4 linked regions of the Homo sapiens genome follow. The protein of the gene in region 1 purifies or fractionates together with the protein of each later gene. This does not show direct contact. Each region holds a gene or a part of one and is shown on either strand. Other genes may lie near its edges. The genes, in order: BRD8, ACTL6A, JAZF1 and EPC2.

The links.
Region 2: the proteins of BRD8 (region 1) and ACTL6A fractionate together in Homo sapiens (co-fractionation; 4 studies listed by BioGRID and IntAct, with this or other methods). This does not show direct contact.
Region 3: the proteins of BRD8 (region 1) and JAZF1 purify together in Homo sapiens (affinity purification with mass spectrometry; 3 studies listed by BioGRID and IntAct, with this or other methods). This does not show direct contact.
Region 4: the proteins of BRD8 (region 1) and EPC2 purify together in Homo sapiens (affinity purification with mass spectrometry; 2 studies listed by BioGRID and IntAct, with this or other methods). This does not show direct contact.

The regions. Positions count from the first base shown.
Region 1 is NC_000005.10:138,147,610-138,154,644, forward strand, and holds part of BRD8 (bromodomain-containing protein 8), read right to left. Parts: intron 5,152-7,035; coding exon 4,873-5,151; intron 3,400-4,872; coding exon 3,136-3,399; intron 2,189-3,135; coding exon 2,031-2,188; intron 1-2,030. UniProt on the Homo sapiens protein: May act as a coactivator during transcriptional activation by hormone-activated nuclear receptors (NR). Isoform 2 stimulates transcriptional activation by AR/DHTR, ESR1/NR3A1, RXRA/NR2B1 and THRB/ERBA2.
Region 2 is NC_000003.12:179,572,894-179,579,928, forward strand, and holds part of ACTL6A (actin-like protein 6A), read left to right. Parts: intron 1-475; coding exon 476-576; intron 577-1,476; coding exon 1,477-1,574; intron 1,575-3,323; coding exon 3,324-3,418; intron 3,419-3,726; coding exon 3,727-3,833; intron 3,834-3,868; exon of another isoform or gene 3,869-3,930; coding exon 3,931-4,020; intron 4,021-7,035.
Region 3 is NC_000007.14:27,830,066-27,834,819, reverse strand, and holds the end of JAZF1 (juxtaposed with another zinc finger protein 1), read left to right. Parts: intron 1-1,843; coding exon 1,844-2,020; 3' UTR 2,021-4,243; downstream 4,244-4,754. UniProt on the Homo sapiens protein: Acts as a transcriptional corepressor of orphan nuclear receptor NR2C2. Inhibits expression of the gluconeogenesis enzyme PCK2 through inhibition of NR2C2 activity.
Region 4 is NC_000002.12:148,647,743-148,654,777, forward strand, and holds part of EPC2 (enhancer of polycomb homolog 2), read left to right. Parts: intron 1-7,035. UniProt on the Homo sapiens protein: May play a role in transcription or DNA repair.

The sequences.
Region 1 (7,035 bases):
ATAAAAACAACTTTGTTTTTCTGCTTTAAAAAGTAATTCACTTCATGCCAGATGCAGTAGTTCATGCCTATAATCCCAGGACTTTGGGAGGCCAAGGCAGGGGATCGCTTGAGTCCAGGAGTTTGAGACCAGTCTGGTCAATGTGATGAAACCCTGTCTCTAACAAAAATACAAAAAAATCAGCTGGTTGTGGTGGTGCACATCTGTGTTCCCAGCTATTCATGAGGCTGAGGTGAGAGGATCACCTGAGCCCAGGAGGCGGAGGCTGAAGTGAGCCAAGATCATGCCATTGCACTCTAACTTGGGCAACAGAGTGAGATCCTATCTCAAAAAAAAAAATTAATATTTTTTTGGTTTCCTGTTAAAAAAAAACAGCCCCCATTAAGATTTGAAAATGTGTTATTTAGTCCTATAATTATCTATACAAAGATGAGACAATTGCATAAACCAGGGGTGTCCAATCTTTTGGCTTCCCTGGGCCACACTGGAGGAAGAAGAAGAATTGTCTTGGACCACACATAAAATACACTAACAATAGCTGATGAGCTGGAAAAAAAAAAAAAAAAAGAAAAAAAAAAGGGAAAAAAAAAGGGTCAGTGCATAAATCTCATAATGTTTTAAGAATTTGTGTTTGGCCACATTCAAAGCTGTCCTGGGCTGCAGGCTAGGGATTAGACAAGCTTGACATAAACAATCCCCTAAGAGATGTGAAAAAGAAACAAAGATCACAAACTTCAAAATAATTTTTTTCTTCTCTTTTATTTCTTGTTTTGTTTTCTGAGACAGGGTCTTGCTCTGTCACCCAGGCTGTGTAGTGACATGATCATAGCTCACTGTAACCTTCACCTCCCAAGTTCAAGCAGTCCTCCTGCCTTGGCCTCCTGTGTAGCTAGGACTACAGGTGCATGCCCCCACACCCAATAAATTTTGTTTATTTTTTGTAAAGATGAGGTTTCACTATATTGCCCAGGCTAGTCTCAAAATCCTGAGCTCAAGCAATCCTCCTGCCTCTGCCTCCCAAAGTGCTGAGATTACAGGTGTGAGCCACTGCGCCTGGCCTAATTTTTTCTTTAAAAAAAAATTTTTTTATCCTCTTCCTTGTCTCCATCAAAATAATTTTCCATTTCAAGTTCATAAAATCTATTTTAATATTTTTAAAAGAGGTATAGTTTGGGCCAGGCACAGTGGCTCAAGCCTGTAATCCCAACACTTTAGGAGGCTGAGGTAGGAGGATCACTTGAAACCAGGAGTTCAAGACAAGCCTGGGCAATATAGCAAGGCCAGCCCTGTCTACAAAAAATAAAAAATCAGCTGGGTGTGGTGGCCCATGGCTGTATTCCCAGCTACTTGGAAGCCTGAGGTGGGAGGATCCCTTGAGTTCAGGAAGTCAAGCTGCAGTGAGTCATGATCGTGCCCATTGCACTCCAGCCTGGGTGATGGAGCTAGACCCTGTCTCTATTAAAGAAAAAAAAAGCACCATAGTTTGTATATTAGGCATAGTTTGTATAATATTAGCTCCATCACCCAGGCTGGAGTGATACAGACTTGGCTAGAGTACAGTGGCACAATCATGGCTCACTGCAGCTTGACCTCCTGGGCTCAGGTGATCCTCCCACCTCAGCTTCCGGAGTACCTGAGACTATAGACAAGTGACACCATACCTGGCTAATTTTTTTTTAATTTTTATTTTGTAGAGGCATGGTCTCCCTATGTTGCCCAGGCTGGTCTCAAAGTCCTGGGATCAAGGGATCCTCCTGCCTTGGCCTCCCAAAGTGCTGGAATTACAGGTGTGAGCCACCACACCTAGCCTTGAAAGACAGTCCTAATATTGATTAAACATATTTGTTTTATAACAGGAGAGCATATAGACTTCTATTTATATGATGTTAAAATTATACTTAATTAATTATATTTTTTGTGTTTTCCAACTCTAATTTTCTTTAACTTATAAAAGTAATCCATTTCATGATTCAAATAGGCATAAACAGAAGTACGAATCTTAACAAACTTGGATGAAAGTCTACGCTTACAGCTTTGAGGAGGTAGCATGGCTGAAAAGTGTATCCACCAAGGGAGTCTCCTTAATGTTAAAGGCATCATCACACTCGCCTGAAGGGGGCTGGTCTTCCATCTCTGACACATATACTTCACCCTGGTCCTCCCCTTTGGATTCTTGCTGAGCCTCCCCCTAGGAATGCCAGGAAACAGGAAACTTTAGAAGGAGATTTACTTTCTGCATAGTAATTTTACTTGCATAGAGTAAATGAAGGCTGCCCTTAAGGTGAGAAGAGGTCAATTACATAAAGCTACAAAAGAAATTAAAGAAAGCTGACTTAACTAGATTTAAGTTAATGAGTTCTTGGTAACAATCTTGCTGGAGGACTTTGACTCTGTGCCACTCACCTCCAGCAAAATGGAAAAGCATTATTTGCCCAATTCTCATTGGATTCTTTAAAAACCATCATGATCACCTGTGGCCCTGGAGTTAACTACTCTAGCTGGCCAGATAATTTTTTTTTTTTTTTTGAGACAGGGTCTCACTCTGTTGCCCAGGCTGGAGTGCAGTAGCATCATCATGGCTCACTGCAGCCTTGCACTCCTGGGCTCCCCCGAGACCCCTAAGTAGCTGGAACTACAGGAACATGCCACCATACCTGGCTAATTTGTTTTTTGTTTTTTGTAGAGATGGTGTCTCCCTGTATTGCCCAGACTGGTCTTGAACTCCTGAGCTCAAGAGATCCTACTGCCTCTGCCTCCCAAAGCACTGGGATTACAGGCATGAGCCATTGCACCCCACCTGCCAGATAATATTAATAATGATGACGGTATTCTAAATTTTACTGATTGCTTACTATAAGCCAGGCACTGTGCTAAGTGCTTTACATGAATTATCTCATTTAAACCTCACAGCAATCCCACAAAATAGGGTGCTATTATTGCATTTCTGCAGAGAAAACTGAAGTTCTAAAATGTTCACTAACATGCTAAAGGTAACACAGCTAAAACTGGTGCTAAATCCAGGATTTGGATCCAGGTAGTTTAACTTTCTGGAGTTAGCCTATGTGCTCTAACTACTCTGTTCTGCTTCCCTAGGCAGAAGACCAACAAGACAGCTGATTTAAGTTACTTTCTTACCTCTTCACTCTCTGTGAGTAGTCCCTGAACTGTACAAATAACTGAGGGAGCTGAAGCCACCTCTGGCTTTCCATTTTCTCCCAGTGGCTTTTCAGCTACTAAGGGGTCTCCTTTAGCTGAAAGCTCTTCAGTCTCTCTGCAGAGCTCCCTTTCTCCTTCGCTAGCTTTAATTTCCCTTCCTTCTTGTCTGGTACCAGATGGAGGGCAGCAGCCTTCACTTGATTCGTTGCTGCTGATGCACAAGGGCTCCATTAAATAAGCTACCTGCAATCAAAGTTTATTATTAGATGCACAGGAACACCACTGAAAATCATCATCCACATATCAACAATGCCACATGCTAACACTGTCACAGTGACTAAGTCTGAGAGGACAAAATGGTTTAATTAATACAATCATCTAAAATCTGCCAAAATATCTTATATACACAGGCACTGGGCTGGTTGGTGGGGACACTACAGTGAACAAGAAAGATATGGTTCTTGCCTCTTCCAGGAGTTTATGTTCTACTTTTTCATCTCAGCTGTCAACTCTGATCAATTGGGAGTGGCTGTCTAGAATAAAGTGTTGAAAATTTTGTCTACCACAGACACTTGTAGAGAGAAGTGGCAACATTTGAAATGGATGCTTGCTGATCTTGATCTAGGGTCTTCTAAATGTGTTCAATAACAGCATACATATAACTCTCTGTCCAATTCTGTTTATTTCTGGTCCTCAGCCCTTAACCAAGGTAATGACACTTAAAAATACTACCTTAAAGTTACAGCATTTTAAGCTTCAAGGAAAATTTGGGCAAGTATAACTTCCCACAACTCCAAAAGCATGAATTACAAGGATACTCATAAAGCAGTCCTTATGACCCAGGCCCCTAATGACTGAAGTATTAGAAATTCAGTCAAAAAGCATGTATTTTTTTATTTTTAATTTTTTTACTTTTGAGACGGAGTCTCGCTCTGTTACCTAGGCTGGAGTCCAATGGCACGATCTCAGCTCACTGCAACTTCCGCCTCCCGGGTTCAAGCGATTCTCCTGCCTCAGCCTCCCAGGTAGCTGGGATTACAGGCACATGCCACCAAGCCCGGCTAATTTTTTAATTTTAATTTTAATTTTAATTAATTTATTTATTTAGAGACAGAGTTTCGCTCTGTCGCCCAGGCTGGAGTGCAATGGTGTGATCTCAGCTCACTGCAACCTCCGCCTCTCAGGTTCAAGTGATTCTCCTGCCTCAGCCTCCCGAGCAGCTGGGATTACAGGCGCCCGCCACCACGCCCGGCTAATTTTTTGTATTTTTAGTAGAGATGGGGTTTCACCATGTTGGCCAGGCTGGTCTTGAACTCCTGACCTCAAGTGATCCGCCCGCCTCGGCCTCCTAAAGTGCTGGGATTACAGGCATGAGCCACTGCGCCCGGCCATTTTTGTATTTTTAGTAGAGATGGGGTTTCACCATGTTGGCCAGGCTGGTCTCGAACTCCCAACCTCAAGTGATCCACTGGCCTCAGCCTCCCAAAGTGCTGGGATTACAGGCGTGAGCCACTGCACCCGGCCCAAAAAGCATGTATTTGGTGCATATTCTGTATCAGCACCAAGTGCTGAGGACATAGCAATGAACTTAATCCCTGCCACTGTGGAGCTTATATTTTAGTAAACAATATTAAGAGTGGTAGAAGCATGTAAGGATAAGCATTCTCTTAGAAAGTTGAGGCTTTTCCAGCTTTGGAAATAAGAGCTCACTGTTACCTCAGAGAGAAAGTGGAGGAGGTTCTGGTGGCTGGCTTTCCTTGCCGCTTCCTGAGATTCCTCACTGCCTCCATCCCCAACAAGCAGTTCACTAGGTTCTCTCTCCGGGCTGCTTTCCTCTAGTTCCTCAGCCTCTGGATCCTCAGTTTCCCTCCAGTTGCCCACATCAAGATCCAGACTGGAGTCCCATGAGCTGAAGAGGGACCTGCAGTCATTGCTCAACTCAGAGTCATTGGGATGATCTTGTTCAGAATCCAGCCAAACCCACTCGTGTCCCATCTGTAAATACACAGGAAAACATGCATTAAATTCATTCAAATAAATATTCCTGAGGCATCTCCATCTCCCGAGTTCAGTAGAAAAATAAGGGGCCAGAAATTTATTTGTATTCAAGTATTCATCATTAGGAAGAATTAAAATCTTGCTGAAGGGAGACATGAGATGAAATTATATTTGTCTTTGGGAATAAAGAAAGCCCCATGTCAGTATAACAGAGATATTGCACCATACAATACAGTATAATAGAGACATTAATATTACCTAATAATTATTTTTACTTGGAATTCCTCATATTCACACCAAAAGAAGGGAAAGAACTGGAGCATAGCTAGCTCAATTATTTTCCTCTAGCCCAAATCATCCATAACTAAACCGTAAGGCAAACAAATTGAGGGGGCAGGGGATATTTTCCTCAGTGTATAAACATTTTTAACCTATGAACCATTAAACCTTCAAAACACACTTTAGGATTGCCTTTGGCATCCTTCTGGTCATATCCAAATTGATGTTGAGAAACATTAAGCTTAAAATATATCTTCCCTTGCTCTCATTACACCACTATCTTGGTTTTTTTATATCTTTCTTTGTCCTCTCCCTTTTACAACTTTCAATAAATCCCTACCTTCTATGTTCATGCTTGGTCCTCTGCTTTCTTATTAATGTATTTTAAAAAAATGTATATATACTTTGAGGTTTCAACTTTGACCTCTATTCAGGTGGCTCCCAAATCTCTCTACCTTTACTTCTTATATGAATTCTGGTGTCATTTCTCCATGCATCCAAAAGTCAATTCCCTTTAGATGCTCTACCACCTGCTGTAACATTTCTAAAATAAAAATCACATTTCCTTTATCTCCAAAATCACTGCTTCTTCCCAATTTCCTTATCCCCATCACCATTTTCTTTTCTTTTCTTTTTTTTTTTTTTTTTTTTTGAACGAACTTTCACTCTTGTTGCCCAGGCTGGAGCACAATGGCCCAATCTCGGCTCACTGCAACCTCTGCTTCCTGGGTTCAAGCAATTCTCCTGCCTCAGCCTCCTGAGTAGCTGAGATTACAGGTGCCCACCACCATGCCCGGCTAATTTTTGTATATTTATAGAGACGGGGTTTCACCATGTTGACTAGGCTGGTCTTGAACTTCTGACCTCAGGGGATCCACCCACCTTTGCCTCCCAAAGTGCTGGGATTACAGGCGTGAGCCACCACACCCGACCCCATCACCATTTTCTTAGTCTACAGAACCCACAATTCTGTTTTGACCCTTCCTTCTCTTATATTCAGTAAGCAAGTCCTCTTCCCAGTTTTCTCCCACAATAAGTTTTCTCAGTGTCCATCCTTTCCTGAATAAATGCCATAGTCTCCTAGTCAGCTTTTCTATCTTTAATCCTATCTGCTCTCAACAAATATAGTTATTCTACTCAAGGCTTTATAACAGCTATCACCTCAAATATAAATTTCTCAATCTGCCAAAGTCCTCCACAAATTTAGCCTTATTTTGTTCCCTTCACTCACATGTACACCTCCTTATTCCTTAGTATAATCCCTGTTCTAATTACATTTTTCTCCGTATTGCCACCCACCACCCCCACCAGATGCCTACACCTTCCATTCGGTTTGCTAGTCTCATTTATCACCTTCTCTACCAACTCAAAACGTATGTCCTTTAATGGACCTTTTCCACACACTTCTCCCAGCTTTTAGAGCTTGTGTTTGTATCTCATGCCTGTTTGCAGACTGCTTTGGGACTACAATGTTATTTTTTATTTTCCTTTCTTGTTTGCAACATGTCCATGTAACAAGGAATTTCATGTTCTAACTCCTGGACTAATTGAATACCTTTCCATTGCCTCACAAAGACTGTATCTTCTCTTCCTTAGCATCCT
Region 2 (7,035 bases), on another chromosome or scaffold:
TTCTTTGAATTTTTAACATGTCTTTTAGTCTTTTTCCAAATAGATTGTAAGTTTTTTTGAGTGTCGGGTCTAGACCATACAATTCTTTCTTTTTTTTTTTTTTTTATAAATCCAGCAGTAGTATCATCAGAAGGCCATACAATTCTTCTGTACTTCCTATTATCATTCTGATCACATTCTGGGCCTCTAATAAGTATTTATTGAATTGAATAACATTTACTTCATATTTTAGGTCTGTTAGATTAATTACATTTGGGACAGGTCTGGGGGCTGGAGGGACCAAAAAGAAGTTCTATATATCTAGAAGGCAAAGGTAATCTCTATATAAAGTAATGTGGTATGAAGTTGATCTGTAAAATCAGTAGGTTCTGTATACTAAAGTATTAATTGTTAAGTCATAGAAACAATTTCTCAAAAGATGCTATATTCATCTTCAACTATGCATTATTTCCAAGTTACTAATCTTATATTCTAGTTGAAGACTGGGATAGTTTCCAAGCTATTTTGGATCATACCTACAAAATGCATGTCAAATCAGAAGCCAGTCTCCATCCTGTTCTCATGTCAGAGGCACCGGTGAGATAAAGATTTTCTTTTTCACGTTTCTCTAGTTGTTTTTTTTTTTTCTTTTTTTTTTCCTTTAGTTTTCTACTCATTTGATGAACATTTTTCTTTAAAGAGGCATAGAAATTCATATTTTGAATTTGAAAATTAGGGAAAAGGATTAATTTTTTAACACTATTATAACTTTTATTTTACTATTCCAATAAATAAAATATCCAGAGAACAACAAAACACCCTAATGGATTCTTGTGGTTATTTATGTATTTCTAGGGATTTGTTTAACATTTTATTTCCTAGGACTGCTTCCCATTTTGAATTATGAATCATTTCTTGTGCCCCAAGGGCAGCGTATATCTACTTTTATTCAAGTTTCCAAGAAAGAATTGAGATGTTGAACAAGGGCTGGAAATTTCTGGACCAAAGTCTCTTGTGAAATACATTTGGTACATAGACAAAAAGGTCCCAGAAAGCAAGCATAATGGTCATAAATTATCAGTATCTTATTGTTACTAACTTACAGTATTCTTTTATGAATACCAACTATAAGTGGGAGAATTTGGTGGTCTAAAATTCATACTTAGGATTTGGATTACCATATTTACTCTTTAGATTTAATAATATGTTTATAAGAATCCTGGTTTCCTCATATGTGGAAAAGTCAGGAGCAATTTTATTATTAAAGAATTTTAATTCTTCTCTGATAGATTTATTAAATTTAATCTACATCTAAAGAAATAAATATTATAGAGGTTTTTTTATTTTTATGAGATATTATGAAAGATGATTTCCCATGGTATTTTATTCTGTTCTTAATGTTTTATATCTTTGTTAATATAGTGCTAGATTTTATCTGGAGATAAATCAACTTTTTAATTCTTAATAACTTGCATTTCTTTTTCCCCTCTTCTCAAGTGGAATACTAGAGCAAAGAGAGAGAAACTGACAGAGTTAATGTTTGAACACTACAACATCCCTGCCTTCTTCCTTTGCAAAACTGCAGTTTTGACAGCGTATCCTTGAAAGAGTAATACCTTTCCTCTTGAAGTATGTACGATACTAATGAATATGATAACTCTGGGAGAAGACATACGCCAATTATTGCTTGTTCCGAAGTTGTTTTTTTCCCTTTTCTCTTGCTTTTTAGCTATTCATCTTTTAGTATTTCTTGTTAGAACTGATGATACACCAGAAGGTATGAGGGAAATAAAATAACACTCAAATTCTGAGTGTTAAGACGTTTTTGTTTTTGTTTTTAAGAAGGGGCATGTGGATAGAAGGCAATGTTTTAACCAGTTGGCTTAGGTGAATTGAAAGATTGCCATTTTAAAATCTCCTTCCCTTCCAATATCATAGAAAACTGGAAATTGGCTGTAAATTCATTCTCCTTCAAATTTAGTCAGTCATCAAATCCTGCCTGTTCTTCCCTGCTATTTGCTTCTCTCTGTCCTACTGCCACAGCATTAGGTGGAAGCTATTTCCAGGATTACTGAAGCACGTCCTCTTGTCTGCCCATTCTTTACGCTGTTGCTCTAATAATCTTTCTATTTTTATTTATTTATTTATTTGGTAGAGATGGAGTTTCGCCATGTTGCCCAGGCTGCTCTCGAACTCCTGGACTCAAGCGATATGCTTGCCTCAGTCTCCCAAAGTGCTGGGATTACAGGCATGAGCCACCGTGCCCAGCCTCTAATAATCTTTCTAAAGTGCTAGTCTGCTTTAAGCCAGAATCGTCTTCTACATTTCTTCCTTTATTTTACTTTCAGACCGTGCTGAGGTACTTGCAGTTCTCTGACCTCGCTGTGTTCTCTTGCTTCTTGGTCTTCCCACATGCTCCTACTCTTGCCCATATTCCCTTCCCCAGATTTTACTATTGAATATCTCAGGAATAGGTTTCCCTTTTACATCACCATCTTCCCTGGGACATCCTGAGCTTTTCTTTTTACAGCTTTATTCATCATCTACTTCACTAAACAGGATAACCTTCAGGGAAAAGGCAGTTTTGGTGCACCATTGTGTGTCTACTGTGTTAAAGGAATTTTAGTGCCAGGTGAGCAGCCTCCCTCCTTCCTCCCTCCCTCCTTATTAAGCACCAGACTTAGTAGACACCTAATAGATGCTCAGTAAATATTTGATGAATGAGTGAATGTCCCTACTCCTAAACATCAGTTTAGTATATTCAGGTAGTATAGGCCATCTGCAGCACAGAACTGTGGAAAATGGGATCTGCCAATATTTACCAACTGTGGAATTCACCTGGAATAGTTTTCCCGCTCATTGAGTTGGAGGAGATAGGAACTGCCATATGGCTGCCAAACTGCTGAAACAGCTCTTTTTCAATGCTATGTGAGAATGGTTATAGTCCCTAGCTCAATTATCACAACCTCCCACTGTTCTTACCAAGTTTCTGTATATTTTGTTAAATAAATGCATCTCAGTTTGTTGTAAGCTCTTTGATCAGTCTCCAGAGACTTTTAGTGATTGTGTTAATTTTGACCAGCTTAATAGTAGCTGTTCCTAGGATAAAGGTTTCCCTGAGTGCCTGATACCTCCATTCTGGAATTCCTGCCTCTTACTATTTGTTTTTAAGCCAGAAATATTATTTTATACCAATTTTTATCCCTAGATTCACTGTAATACATTTTTAACTATAAGGTACATGTTTAAGAAATAGTTTCTGAAACATTATAAGAGCCTGCCCTTTACAATAAACATTATTTTAGCGGCCTTGATACTTTCTTTTCCTTAATGTTTTAAACTAGATTTGCTAATGGTCGTTCTACTGGGCTGATTTTGGACAGTGGAGCCACTCATACCACTGCAATTCCAGTCCACGATGGCTATGTCCTTCAACAAGGTAAATGTATTTAACCAGGATACACTGAGATGATTTTAGATGCCATGAGGATGCACATAATGAAATAAAATGATGAGTAGCACTATTAAAGCATATCAGTTTCTGAATAAGATTTTTTTTAAGTATGTTAAAAATCTTTAGTATATAATGTATATTTAAAACTGATGCATGGCTTTATTTATGTGTTGAAGGATAGTTCAGTTCATTCTACCTGAAAAAGTTATTCACATAAATACACCCACAGAGGAAATTCGTTCAAGGAAGTTTGGACTTACTGCCCTCTTAGCCTTGTTTCATCTGTTTCATAGGCATTGTGAAATCCCCTCTTGCTGGAGACTTTATTACTATGCAGTGCAGAGAACTCTTCCAAGAAATGAATATTGAATTGGTTCCTCCATATATGATTGCATCAAAAGTAAGTAATTATTGAATTTTCTTTGTAGAACTTACTTCTAGCTCCCCCACCCCTATGAAGTGAACTCCATTAACCTAGCATCTCTTGGTACTCTCAGGAAGCTGTTCGTGAAGGATCTCCAGCAAACTGGAAAAGAAAAGAGAAGTTGCCTCAGGTTACGAGGTCTTGGCACAATTATATGTGTAATGTAAGTAACCCTCATTCTCTTTACAAAAATGTTACAGGCTTTTTGCATGAGTATTAAAAAAAGTTATATATAGGCTGTAAATCCTTGAGTAAAATATGGGCACTTTATATTTTCAAGCTCTTTATTTTTTTTATTACTAAATACATTTTGAAGATTAAATAGAACATGATCTCAGGGTCACACTCTATATTTTTAATGATATTTTACTAACAAAAGAGCTTTTCTGTGAGAGGCATGCTTTTCATACTTGCCAAACAAATCTCTACAAATTACTACATACTCACTTGGATTACTATGGTGAGACCTGGAAGGAATTTTGGTTTTATGCTATTCTGAACATTTTTGGCTGAGAAAATGGTTTTAGGTTTTGTAGAGGCCTACTAGTATGTCTCAGTTATGTTCTGTTTCCCAGCATCAGTCAGCAATATCAAAAATGTGTTTTTGTTCAGAACAAGGAACCCATGAGAGATTCTCTTTACTAAAAACCCATCTCTGAACATATGGCTTACTGATGGGGAAGAGGTTAGTAAAACAACCTGATGCCACAGATACGCCTTAATTTCTTAAAAAAAAAACAAAAAAAAACTGTTACTTTAGGTTCAGGGGTACATGTGCAGGTTTGTTAAATGGGTAAACTCATGTCACGGAAGTTTGTTGTACAGATTATTGTCCCCCAGGTACTAAGCCTAGTACCCAATAGTTATTTTTTCTGCTCCATTCCCTCGTCCCTCAGGGAGGTCCAACTGTCTGTTGTTCCCTTCTTTGTGTCCATGTGTTCTCATCATCTAGCTCTCACTTGTAAGTGAGAACGTGCTGTATTTGGTTTTCTGTTCCTGCATTAGTTTGCTGAGGATAATGGCCTCCAGCTCCATCCCTGTTCCTTCAAAGGACATGATCTCATTCTTTTTTTTTTTTTTTCACTACATAATATTCTGTGGTCTGTATGTACCACATTTTCTTAATCCAGTCTTCCACCGACGGGCATTTAAGTTGATTCCATGTCTTTGCTATTGTGAATAGTGGTGCAGTGTACATACACATACATGTGTCTTTATGATAAACTGATTTATATTCCTTTGGGTATATACCCAGTAATGAGATTGCCAGGTCAAGTGGTAGTTCTGGGCCAGGCATGGTGGCTCACGCCTGTAATTTGAGAGGCTGAGGTGGGTGGATCCCTTGAGCTCAGGAGTTAGAGACCAGCCTGGGAAACATGGCAAAACCCTGTCTCTACAAAAACAGAAAAATTAGCTAAGTGGGGCCGGGTGCAGTGGCTCACGCCTGTAATCCCAGCACTTGGGGAGGCCGAGGCGGGTGGATCACCTGAGGTCAGGAGTTGGAGACCAGCCTGGCCAACATGGTGAAGCCCTGTCTCTAAAAATATAAAAAAATTAGCTGGGTGTGGTGGTGGGTGCCTGTAATCCCAGCTACTTGGGAGGCTGAGGCAGGAGAATTGCTTGAACCCAGGAGATGGATGTTGCAGTGAGCCAACACGGTGCCACTGCGCTCCTGCCTGGGCGACAGAGTGAGACTCCATTTCAAAGAAAAAGAAAAATTAGCTAAGTGTGGGGGTGTGCACCTTTAGTCCCAGCTACTTGGGAGACTGAGGTGGGAGAATCACCTGAGCCCTGTGAGGTCGAGGCTGCAGTGAGCTGTGATTGTACCAGTGCCTTCTAGCCTGGGTAACGAGTGAGAACCCATCTCAAAAAAGAAAAAAAAACAAATGGTAGTTCTGTTTTTAGCTCTTTGAGGAATTGCCACATGGCTTTCAACAATGGTTGAACTAATTTACATTCTCACCAAAAGTGAATAAACGTTCGCTTTTCTCTGCAGCCGTGTCAGCAGCATCTGTTATTTATTTAATTTTTTCAAGACAGAGTCTTGCTTTGTCACCCAGGCTGGAGCGCAGTGGTGCAGTCTCGGCTCACTGCAACCTCCATCTCCTGGGTTCAAGCAATTCTCCTACCTCAGCCTCCTGAGTAGCTGGGACTACAGGTGTGTGCCACCACACCTGGCTAATTTTTGTATTCTTAGTTGGCCAGGCTGGTCTCTAACCCTTGACCTTGTGATCCACCCGCCTCAGCCTCCCAAAGTGCTGGGATTACAGGCGTGAGCCACTGTGCCCGGCCCTATTTTTTCACTTTTTAATAATAAATAATAGCCATTCTGACTGGTGTGAGATGGTGTATCATTGGGGTTTTGATTTTCATTTATCTGATGGTCAGTGATATTGAGCTTTTTTTCATATGCTGTTGGCCGCATGTATGTTTTCTTTTGAAGTGTCTATTAGTGTCCTTTGCCCACTTTTTAATGAGGCTTTTTGTTGTTGTTGTTCCTTATAGAAGCTAGGTATTAGACCTTTGTTAGATACATAGTTTGCAAATATTTTCTCCTATTCTGTAGGTTGTTTGCTTACTCTGTTGATAGAAATTAATGTGTATCCAGCAAAAGAAACTAAGAGTAAAATTATATGAGTCATAATTTACTATGAGAGGGATCATATCTAACAGGTTTTTTAAAAATTATTTTATTTATATCATATACACACACACACACACACACACACACACACACACATTTTAAAGACAGGGTTGGCTGGGCACGGTGGCTCATGCCTGTAATGCCAGCACTTTGGGAGGCCAAGGCAGTGGATCACTTGAGGCAAGGAGTTCAAGACTATCCTGGCCAACATGGTGAGACCCCATCTCTACTAAAAATACAAAAATTAGCTGGGTTTGGTGCTGAGCACCTGTAATCCCAGCTACTTGGGAGGCTGAGGCAGGAGAATTGCTTGAACATGGGAGATGGAGGTTGCATTGAGCCAAGATTGTGCCACTGCATTCCAGCCTGGACGACAAGAGCAAGACTCTGTCTCAAAAAATAAATAAAGACAGGGTCTCTCTCTGTCACCCAGGCTGGAGTGCAGTGGTGCAGTTGTAGTTCACTGCAGTCTCAAACACCTGGGCTCCCCCTGCCTCAGCCTCCTCAGTAGGGAGGACTACAGGTGCATGCCAC
Region 3 (4,754 bases), on another chromosome or scaffold:
AGGTGGTTCTCGCCTGGGGTCTCATGCAGTTGCTCTAAGACACCAGTTGGGGCTAGAATCATCTGAAGGCTCACTTGGGCTGGATACACACGTTGGCCTCTTCACTCATGTGCCTGGGCCTCGGAGGGGATGGAACCGCCAGGGACTGGCAGGGCATATCTACCCATCTAACATTTCAGTGGGTCTGATTCTACCACCACCACTACCCTCCCCTTTCCTGCCCCAGTAGGCTCTGAAACCCCCAACATGCCTCTTAACAAGACTGAAGTACCTTATGTTTGAAAGGATTGATGCTGGAAGGACAGGGCTGAGGTGCAGAAGGCCTGGAGCCAGGTGTTCAGGGGAGAGTGTTTGTCCTTCTGCTTCAAATCACTGGACAACCTTCAGACTCTGAGCATAGCCAGCTGCTACTTGGCACCCCTGGGTTCAACAAAGTCCAGCAGAGTTCTCTTCCAAGGACTTTTAAAAAAGCATTCATGTGTACTGCACATCTCTAGTGTAGTAATCACCACCACGTTTATATTTAGTAGCAACCCTTCTTCCAGACTAGTGAGGCGTGAACTTGGGAAGTGCTGTTGTAACTTCATTCACTCACAAAGACTTAGCATCGACAATGTGCCAGGCACTGTGCTAGGTATTCATGAGACAACAGCAGGGAGCTGTTTTCTGGGAGCTCTTTGAAGGCATCCCATGAAGAGTGGGAACAATTTGTGTTGGAATCCTTCAGTTGGGCAAGGGACTGGCTCTAGCAGGACTGGATTTAGGTAATATTTTAGGAAACAGCTCACTCTCCTAAAATCTGTGCTTTTTGTTTCAGGCTGTCTCTTCTGTGTTCCCTTACTCTCTAATCTGGCAATTGCTGACTTGGAAATTAAGACCTATCTCAAATACCACACGTCCGCCGTCCCTTCTTAGATCTTCCACCAGTTACTTACTACCCTCAAGCCCATTTCCTCACCATTTAATTGGGATGAGGATTACTGGTGGTTAAAACTGTAGAGAGTGACTCTTACATAGAATACGGAATCTTACATAGAATATGCTGGTGAACTAGCAAAACCGACAAACAGAAATTTAGAAAGCATTTTGATAACTTTAGTATCCAGATGCTAAGAAGTCCAATCTTAGTGACTAACATTATATAACCTTAAATTTTTAAAGTTCATTGTATGTTTGGAATGTAATACTTAAGGTAAGGACTAGTCTGACTACAGGTGCTTATTAAACATGTACAACTGTACGGCGGGGACAAGATTTGGGCAACAAGTAGCTCCCACAGTGGCATCAGAGATACTGGCTTAGTGCAGAGCAGAAAACTGACAAAAACTCTGGTTAAGGCATGGTAGGGAACTGTTAACACAGTTATCTAGAAGCAAGCTGTAAATTGAGTTTCCAAATCAAAAATTTCTATATGTTAAACTTTTGGGATATGCCCTGATGTTTTTCTTTAGAAAGATATTTTGTTGGTCATGCTGAGGATATTTGTGTAGGATTGTTCACTGTTAACTTTCTTTAGAGTGGAAAAGATTCAGAGGATTTTCTTTATACAGTCTGTAAGTCCTAAATATATATTTTATATAAAATTGGAAGAAATCAGTACTTTCATTTTCAGAGTAATTGAGGCACATCTGAAATTTTGAGTCAGCTGTGTGTGTGACCATCCGTACAGCCCATGACCGACACACCAGAATGTCCTTGAAGGGTCCCAACTGGAGTCCTTGCAAAAGACTACACTCTAAACAGCTGCCATCCAGGAACTGCAATCCAGACCCAAATTGAGGTTTCCGAAGTTTGACAGGTATCCTGTGAATCCATGTAATAAATATTTTTGTCTTCTCCACAGAATGTGAATGGCATAAAGTATCACGCTAAGAATGGTCACAGAACACAGATTCGTGTCCGCAAACCATTCAAGTGTCGCTGTGGGAAGAGTTACAAGACAGCTCAGGGCCTGCGGCACCACACAATCAATTTCCATCCCCCGGTGTCGGCTGAGATTATCAGGAAGATGCAGCAATAACATGCTGGTCATAACTGTGCCAAGAAATCCTCACCAGCAGTTGCTGATTTTGAAAACAGCCACCTTTTTTCAGGGGAAGCATTCAGCAACCCTTTAAAGAAAAAGAATTAAATGCATGCTTTAAATTTTTTCTGTAATTTTGGAATGATGTATCTTTGTAGAGTTAATGATTTTGTACATTTGCACATGTAATCATCATACCCATTTTCATTACTTTGATATAAGGTGCTAAACAAAAAAAGCTCTAGGTTCTTCAGCACATTTCCCCCAAAACAAAATAAAATTGAGGGCATGTTGCATATTGTTGAATTGTATTGCGGTGGTATCAACCTGGGGGGAGGAGGGGCTGGCACTGAGATTTTTTTTTCAAGATTGTAATGTGATTGAAGTTTTCAACACATCAACTCACATATGTTCAAAACCAAAATAATACCTTCATTATCAAACTGGTTACCATGCCTTACATAATGGAGTTAGTATTTGTGAGTAGAAAGACTTTAGGTAATGGAAATATAAATAAGAAAGAATGTTTAACATAATATGCTAAAAATATTTTCATATTTAAATAACATACGTAAAGGTGTGCTTTCTGTGTTTTATATTATCTTGCAAATCCTTTTGCCCTTTAAAAAGCTGAAAATCTTGCCATCTGACTTACTAGTCATTTTAGTGTTATAAATGGCATTTTGTACAAAATAGTCTATTCAGTTCGTTCATTCATTTAACACACATTGATTGAGTGCCTGCTGGGTACAAGGGATTCAATTTATGCCTATTGATATCTGCGGACCAAGATACCCATTTAGTGAAATACTTTTTTCCCTGAAATCTGTTAGAAAAGACTTTGAAATACTTCAGTGCAAAGTGTGTGTGTGTGAAGTTTAGTTATATCTTCATCTTCAGATGAAGTTTTAAAGCACTTTGTAGTTCTCTATTGCCAACAATTTAATGTTTATGTGTTGCCAATTCTTGCAACCACTGCCCTACCAAACCTGTGGGTTGCAAATCAGAACTAAAATTCTAAGCACGTTTCAAAGATGAACACTTTTGTTAAGACCCCTATTGCCTCTTCTTCATGCTCATTTTTTACTTTTTTTAAAAGGTACTTTTCTCATCACATTGTAGAGAGGTCTGCATTCTCATTGGAAATGTCTGTTTAGCTTTATAAAACAAACACTTTGCTGAAATAGGAAAATGAGCCTTATTGACAATTAAGTGCTTCTTGCAGCAGGTGGTCAAAGAAAAGCATGACTAATACGACCTATTAGAGTAATCTACATCTGGACCATTCCTTAAGTTTTTCCTCACCGACAGTACCATCATGCCTTGAGTGTTCTTTTCTCCCAAGTGCTATTCCTTAAACACGAGAGTTTACCAGTTGCCTAATAATGCAATAAAAAATGCTTTGAGATAGCTAACTGCCCATAAAACAAACTCAAATTGCTTATAAAGTTTCTTCCCATGTTCCCATTTGATGAAAAGTCTTACATCACATATAACTGGGAAGCAGGGGTCCCTCCTCAATTTTCAGACATTTTGAAAGGATGACAGTTCTGTTTGTTAGATGAGTAAACCTCTATATTCATAAGTTCTAAAATCCTTCATTATGAGGGATTCAAAGTATTTATAAAAACACTGCCCTCTAAAAATTTCCTCAGATCTGAAGTATGGTCTTGGTCCTGAATATACAGTGTTATCCTATGTTTAAAAGGGTGATCCAGACATGAGACGCAACTAGTTGGTGCATAAGAAGGCCCCACTTGGCTATTTCATATCTACCTACAATTGACCAAAAAAAATTTTTTAGGCCAGCAATTATTATTTAGCTTCGCTCTTTCTAGTGCAAGAAACTGCAGGCTGGATCAGTAGTTCAACAGCTAAACAGTCATAAAATAGTCATTGTGCATGTTAAATTTCTTTCAATGCTTTCAAAGATAAATTCCAATTTCTATTTACTTATTCATTGTGACAGTATTACTAAACAGGTAAGGATGGGAATATTTTGTTATACTGTGTATAGTGAATGTATTGTACTGTGTCTGTGAAAACTGTGCTTTAAATTATATTTTCATATGTTTTGTTGGGGACAGAGCACATTAAGTCTGAAAGCAACAGAGGTTTGTTTTAGAACTGAAGGCAATTTAATCAAAATTCCTGTCAAGAAAAGCTGCTTATAAATGTAAATGAAATCACATTTAAAATAAACTGCCTCTGACCCAAAAATAAATATGGCTCTTTATTTTCCTTAGTGTCCATTATGAAAACCAGTATCAAGTTTACCATGGAAATTAATATATCCATTCAGTTCCTCATTCTAAGGCTGTTCAGTTGATGCATGTAGACTTTATTCCCTTACATTTTTGCTTAGATTAGATTAGGCTGTATTACTTTTCTGTCAATAACAAATTAAGCTTGGACTTACTTACTTAAACTATTTTAAAATAAGTTCTAGGCTAGTAAGATGAACAGTGTCTACTACTATAATAAATATTCCAAGGATACTTTTGGATTAACATGGTCCATAATTATTAACTCCAACAAAAATGCTCCCATTGTTGAACATATTTTACCTAAGTATATAACCTATCTGGAAGCTGAAAGTCTCCAAAGCTATTGCTTCCTAGGACTGCTGTGTCCTAACAGCTGGCATATGAATGCCTCATACTGGTTTGCCCTAGACTCAAAAAACTTTTTAAAGGATTCTAACAATATACAAACTCTGCTTCCACAAACA
Region 4 (7,035 bases), on another chromosome or scaffold:
CTGCCTCAGCCTCTCAAGTAGTTGGGACTACAGGCACGTGCCACTATGCCCAGCTAATTTTTGTATTTTTAGTAGAGACGAGGTTTCACCGTGTTGGCCAAAATGATTTCGATCTCTTGACTCTTGCTCCACCTGCCTCGGCCTCCCGAAGTGCTGGGATTGCAGGCGTGAGCCACCGTGCCCTGCCGCGCCTTGCAATTTTTTTATTAGCTCTTTTAGAAAGAATTATTTTCAAACTAGAGCATGAGTGCTAAACTTGGATACTTTTCAGTAGCCTACTTCAATTGCCCAATTTTAAGGAAGAAGAAATCCAAATTCTGATAAAACTAGAGTTGAAACCCAGAACCTCTGATTCTTTGTCCTGTCCTTTCTGCCTCTTTAATACATGCTAAAAGTGGAGATTCTTAAAATCAAAATTAAGCAAACCGTAACAGTTAAGATTTATAGTCTGAAATCTTTTGCTTCCCAGAGTGTCCAATTGGAGTATTAGTTTTTCTTTTTCTTTCTTTTTTAAATATGTATGTCAGAAGACTTGTGTTTTCATGAGTGACAGCAAATTCATTTCTCTGGTCTTACAGGACTTCTGTTATTAAACAGAATTATGTATTTATAAAAATGGTTCTGCCTTGATAAATATTTCTAAGCAGCAGTAAAATGTCATACATTTCACAAATGTTTTGTGTTTCACTTGAATTGCATTTTAAGTAACTTTCAATATCTAGATGTCCTTAACTCCTTATTTTTATAAGATTTTTTTCTTTTAAATCAGTAGGCTTGTAACAAACAAACCAACCTTGGCTTACGGATTCACAATTGTTGCTGGGTGTCTCTGAACTGTGCTGTCCTGCTTGGTTGGCAAAATCTTTTGAAGCCTTCATGGATGGCTTTTTCCCATTCCCCCTCTATCCCCACCCACCCTTAAAATTAAGGCCTGTCTCTTCTGTGTAGCTATTGGACTATCATTAGACTTCGTTTATATAAACAAAGTCATTATTCAAGTTCGAGTTACATTCTGACTGAGTTACATTCTGACAATGCCTGGATGAGGTGATTTAGGTGTTCTTGGGCATTGGTAACATTGTATCATTGATAATCATGTCATCCTGTGTAGCCTCTTCTTTTGGACATCCAAACATCTTTTACTTCTTTTCTTCCCTATCCTTATTATCATTGTCCTCTGCTAAGAGCTGCCAGTTGGCATCCTCCTTTAACTTGGTCTTTGTAATGCTCCTCACGGCACTTGGTCTAGGTCAAGTACTGTACACTTATGTTTATTTAGAATTTAGACCAGAAAGATCAGGCAGCCAGCGGTTCTGCCGCCTCCCCATGAGTGTTGTATAGTGGTAGTTGATGTTTTTACTAATACTTGCCATTTACTGAATACTTCATATATCCGAGATACTGTGTTAAGGGCTTTACATATATTATTTCATTTAATCCTTTTTTTAAATAAACTTTTTTTGAAGTATACTTTACATACAAAAAAAGTACCTATATACAGTGTGGAGTTTGATGAATTTTGACAAATGCATACAAACATGAAAACAAGATATAGAACATTTCCAACATTGGAGAAGTTCCCTTGTGCTCCTTTGCAACCAGTCCCTTTCCACTCCTAGTCCAAGCAATTGTTGATTTGTTTTGTTTTACTGTAGATTAGGTTGCCTTTTCTACAATTTCATATAAATGGAATCATACATACTTTTTTATGTCTAGCTTCCTTTGTTCCGTACGATGCATTTAAGATTCATCCTTGTTGTATGAGTCTGTTCCTTTATATTGCTGAGTAGTATTCCAGTGAATTTGGTATGCTATCTTTATGCATCTCTCTGATTTTTTAGTTGTTTCCAGTTTTTGATTATCATTTAATTCTGGTAACAGCCCTGTGAGGTATTACCATTTCTGTTTTATAGAGGAAAAGCTGAAAGGTCTTGCTGCTAGTGCAGGGCTGAAATTCAGACCCTTGACATTGGTGTCACAAAAGCATATACTCATAGTCACCATGCTGCATATTCAGGGTTCTTACAGAATCCAGAGTTATCTTCTGAACTGTGATTAAGTTCATTATAGCTTTTGTAAATAATATTTTACTTTTTATAACTTTGGAAACCTTAGAAGTTGCCAATTTGGTTAGACTGTTAAATTATTAAGAAGTGTAGTTTTTTCATTACTTAATTTGGTCTGACTTTTGCTCTTGGGTTTTCAGATTTTCTTTCTTTTTTCTTAGCAGTTTGTGAACTTTGCTTTCCCCTGTATTGGCACCATTATATTTATCCCACTGTTTATGTTATCTTAAGCATATAAGAAATTTGTGGGAAACTGTCCCATTTTATTGTTTAGATTTTTCTCCTGCTAGGATATAATGTCTCTAAGGGCAAAGATCTTTGCTTATTTTGCTCATTAATATATTCCAAGTGCCTGGAACTGTGCCTGGCACATAATACATGCTTGCAAAATGTTTGTTGAGTGTTGAATGGGCTTCTATTTCTTTTTCTGTTCCAAGAGCTATATTTGTGTCTTTTCTCCCCCTCCCCCAATATCTATCTATATATAAAATTTATTAGCAGCATTTGATAAAGTCTTCTTCCAGGAATTCTTTTTGGTTGCTTACTTTGGTACTATGTATATCTAAATATTATATCCTCTTTTCCTCTTGAGTCAGAGGCCTCTTTAAATATAGAATCTTTTCACACGCCGATATGGTTGTAATGATAAATCTTTATCTTGTTTTAAGTAACTCTCATAGGTGTGTGTAGATTTCTGTGAGATACTTTTTCATACCAGAATGTACCAGTCTACATGAATCATGTGATTCACCTTATTTTTAAAGAAGATCCATGACTAATTTGAATTGCCATATCTCCTCTCATATGTTGTCTAATTTTTGCCGTTATGTTAATATTTTAAGTGATATTTTGAATTGATACAGTAGGAATATAATCCTGATTGATACCTTTTCAGAATTACTATTGGCACTAATATATTTCATGTTTCATAATGGAGAGGGTATAAAATGCAGTTTTGTAAGTTGATACTGTAAAAACATGAAGCATTTCTTCTTCTAACAAAAGCAAATGACATGCCAGGTATTATCTAAATGCCAGTTGTTATCTAAATAAGATATTGGGAAACTAAAGTGTTCTGTATAGGAAAAGTATGTGTAAGGCCGTGTACTGAAATGTTAGGAATAAAAGAAGATGCAGACTTCAATTTCATAGAACTTAAATGAACCATTAAGTCCAAAAACATGTATCTGGAAAGTTAGCAAAAACTACAGGGTTAAGACAACCTGACAGACATCAAAAGAGCATTAGAGAAAGTTAAATGTTAGTGTAGTTGAGAGGCATGAGGTGATTCATTGCATGTCATAAAGAAGGCTTCTTGGAGAGAGGCGTAACAATTTGGGCTTTCAGGTTTGGTTGTATGGTGTATGTTGAAGCAAATATTTGAGCATAAGAATATCTAAAGGAAGTTCTGAGGATGCTGAGTAGACCAAAGGAAGGTTCTTCCATGTTAGATGCTTTCTGTCAATCATTTCCTATTCTTCCTGCTAATAGAAACTTTAGGAGGATAGCACTCTGATGTTGCTGACCATATCATTCCCCTGTTTTCGTTCGGACATGCAGACATCTTTTGCTTCTGTCTTCCCCTTCATTTTATCCCTGTTACATCTTCAGCACTAAAAACCGTTTAAAACATAGAAGCACTCAGTAAATATTTGGTGAATGAAGGAGTAAAAATAGGGGTGGAGATTAGGTTGGAAAAAAGGTAGAATTAGACTAAATTATAGGCAGTTTTGAATGTTAGGCCTAGGAGTTTGTAGGGTGGTATAGATGAAAGACCACTGAAGTATGATTCTGGAGTTTTTGTTTCTAGTTCTGGTTGTCATGGATTAACCCATTTATGCCTAAGTGGGTTAAATGGCCATATAATTTGGAAGTTGCTTAGCTTTTCTGAGCCTCAGGTTGTTCATCACTACTATCTCAGCTAACATTTGAGTGTGTGTTGTTGAGTGTTTGAGCATGTGCCAGGCACTTTGTTAAACTTAATAGATGGTTTAGAGTTGATTTTAAGAGTAGGACATATAGGTGTTACTACTTCTTTTTCAGAGGAAGAAACTGAAACTTTAGAAATTAAGTAACTCGCCTAAGATCATCCGTCTAAAAAAGAACATGCTAGAGCCAGAATTTGCACTCAGGCTGATTGACTCTGGGGCTCTTGCTTCACCGTTGTACTGCTTCATCTGTAAAATGAATGGGTTGAGAACTAGAAGATATCTAAGGTCCTTTATAGCTTTACTGTTCTATCATTTATTTTCCCATTTAAAGTTCAAAATTCCAGATTCTTGAGATAGAGAGCGTTATTGGTCTGGCTTGCATCAGGTATCTACCTCTGAGTCTGCCATTCAAAGAGAAGGGGAAGTTAGTATACCTATGTTGAGAAGTGTTACCCTCTCAGCTGGAGAGCTGCCCTGAGAGATCTGCTACCGATGGTAATATAGCATGATCAAAAGTTAGGAAGTTAAAGTGTTAAATCATTTTAATCCATGATTTGTCCCAAGGTGAATTTGTATACTTAGTGTGTTTTTACAAACCATAAATTTGTAAGATGTTTTAATGAGCTTAGAATAATTTGTATGTGTTATGTTTTAAATGAAATTTGAATCAAAGACTGTAAAAGAAGTCTCCAGTGTCCTTTTAAAAAAAAGCAAACTCTTCACACTTATTAATTTTCAAAGTTGTAAGGGATGAGTTTTGTTTGACCGCGTAGAAATTATTTAACCTTCCTGGCCCTTAGTTTTCTCATTTGTGAAATAGAATTGGACTGAGTGACCTTTAAAGTACCTTTGACTCTAAAAATTACTTGAACCTCTGAAACCGCATGTCTATCTACTGGCATATTGTCCAGGATTATAATTAGATGAAAAGAACTAACAAATGTGACATTAAATATTGGGAAGAAATTAATGCTTAAGGTTTAACTCTTTAATACTGCTGAGATCCTGTCAATTTGGCTTATCGTTCTTTTATGAGGATCGATTATATTCGTCCTCTATCTAATATTAATTTTTCCTAGAGCCTAGTAGAGCAATCCATTCTGTGTATGTTTTGGTTATGATCATCTTGCTTTCATGAAATTTTCTTCACTTTACTAGGCTTACTCATTGCTGTAAGTATTCTGAAGTTCAGTAGTACTTTTAGTCTTTACCACTTGAGTTTATTTTAATTTTCTAGTATCATTTTTCTCACTTGAGTGTGTGTGTAATGGTGTGTGTGTGAATTTTATATATGTATGAAAAAGAGCATGTGCACGAGAGAGAGTAGACACTTATTTCCCCAACAAGACTAAATGTCTTGAGGGAAGGTATCATGTGTGTTTTATTCAGTACCCAAGACAGGCAGGATAGCAATCCAGGTACTTCTGTCACTTTCTGTCTTAAGTGATAAAAAGTTTGTAATACAGGCACTTAGCATGTTGCTGGTCACTTGGATTGAGTTTCGTTGTATTGGTAAACAATGCAGCTCTGCATCTTCATTTAGTTTTAAGTAGAGTTGAAGTAGAAAAACAGTAATGGGTGTGTAGAGACAGCATGAGGAGGAGAGGCTGATAGGAATAAGCCCTGAAGGAGACCAATGCAGATGGCAGAAGGTCCATCATGATTATTTGATTTTAACTTAAAGTTGATCATCGATTATTTGCCTTGTCTATACTATTTAAATGGGACAGAGCTTTAAATTTACATATTCTATCATGCAGAACCGCTTCTTACAGGGTTAACACTGTGGAGGAAGATGCCAGTCACTTCCAGTTTCTCCTCAGCAGTTTCATTGTATCTGTCTTCTTTTAGGTTTTTTGTTTTACTGTAAGCAGCTGTTGCTATAAAGTCAGAGGAATGCAGACTGGAGAGTCAGCCTATCTGCTACCTCTCTTAACTCCTATCTTTGCTTCCCTGCTTGCTTGCTTTTTTTTTTTTAAATGGGCTAAGGACGTGTCTCATGTCTTGGTTGGGGAGTCAACAAGCAGCATTCAGTTTTGCTGCTAATTTGGTGAAGTTGTTGGAACTTTGAAATTGTGATTTAGGTTCCAATCCTGGCCTCTGCCACTTGCCTTATGGGTGAGGTAAATTACTTAACCTCATTGAGCCCCATTTCCTCATCTGTTTAATAAGTATCTGAAAAGTTAGTTTTAAAGATTACTTTTTTTTTTGTTTTTTTTTTTTTTGGAGACAGGGTCTTGCTCTGTCACCCAGGCTGGAGTGCAATGGCGCGATCTTGGCTCACTGCAACCTCTGCCTCCCTGGTTCAAGTGATTCTCCTGCCTCAGCTTCCCAAGTAGCTTGGGACTATAGGCACACGCCACCACGCCCAGCTAATCTGTGTATTTTTAGTAGAGATGGGGTTTCACCATCTTGGCCAGAATGGTCTTGATCTCTTGACCTCGTGATCTGCCTGCTTCTGCCTCCCAAAGTGCTGGGATTACAGGTGTGAGCCACCATGCCCGGCCAAGATTACATTTTTTTGTAAAAACTTAAGTCTGTGTCTTATAGGCAACACTCATTTTTTTGGTAACAATTTTCACTTATACAGGATAACAAATATGAAGGTTGATGGAAGAGTAAAATGTAGAGTATTCCCATACATTATTCTGTGATAGAGTTTCACATTTTTTCTCATGCCAATTAAACATTTTTACAGCTTGAGGCCAGGAGTTTTGAGACCAGCTTGGGCAACATAGTATGGCTTCGTGTCTACAAAAAATAAAAACATCAGCTGGGTGGAGTGGCATGTACCTGTAGTCTCAGCTACTTAGGAGGCTGAAACTGGAGGATTCCTTGAGCCCGGGAATTCAAGGCTGCAGTGAACTGTGATAGCGCCACTGCACGCCAGCCTGGATGACAGAGTGAGACTGAGGCCCTGTCTCTTAGAAACAAACAAACAAAAAGAGAGAGCGCTTTCAAACATTACAAGTTAATATGTGTGTTTTCCTCCTTCCTTCTGTTTTCTGGCACAGCAGTTGACAAGCAAATTGATTTTA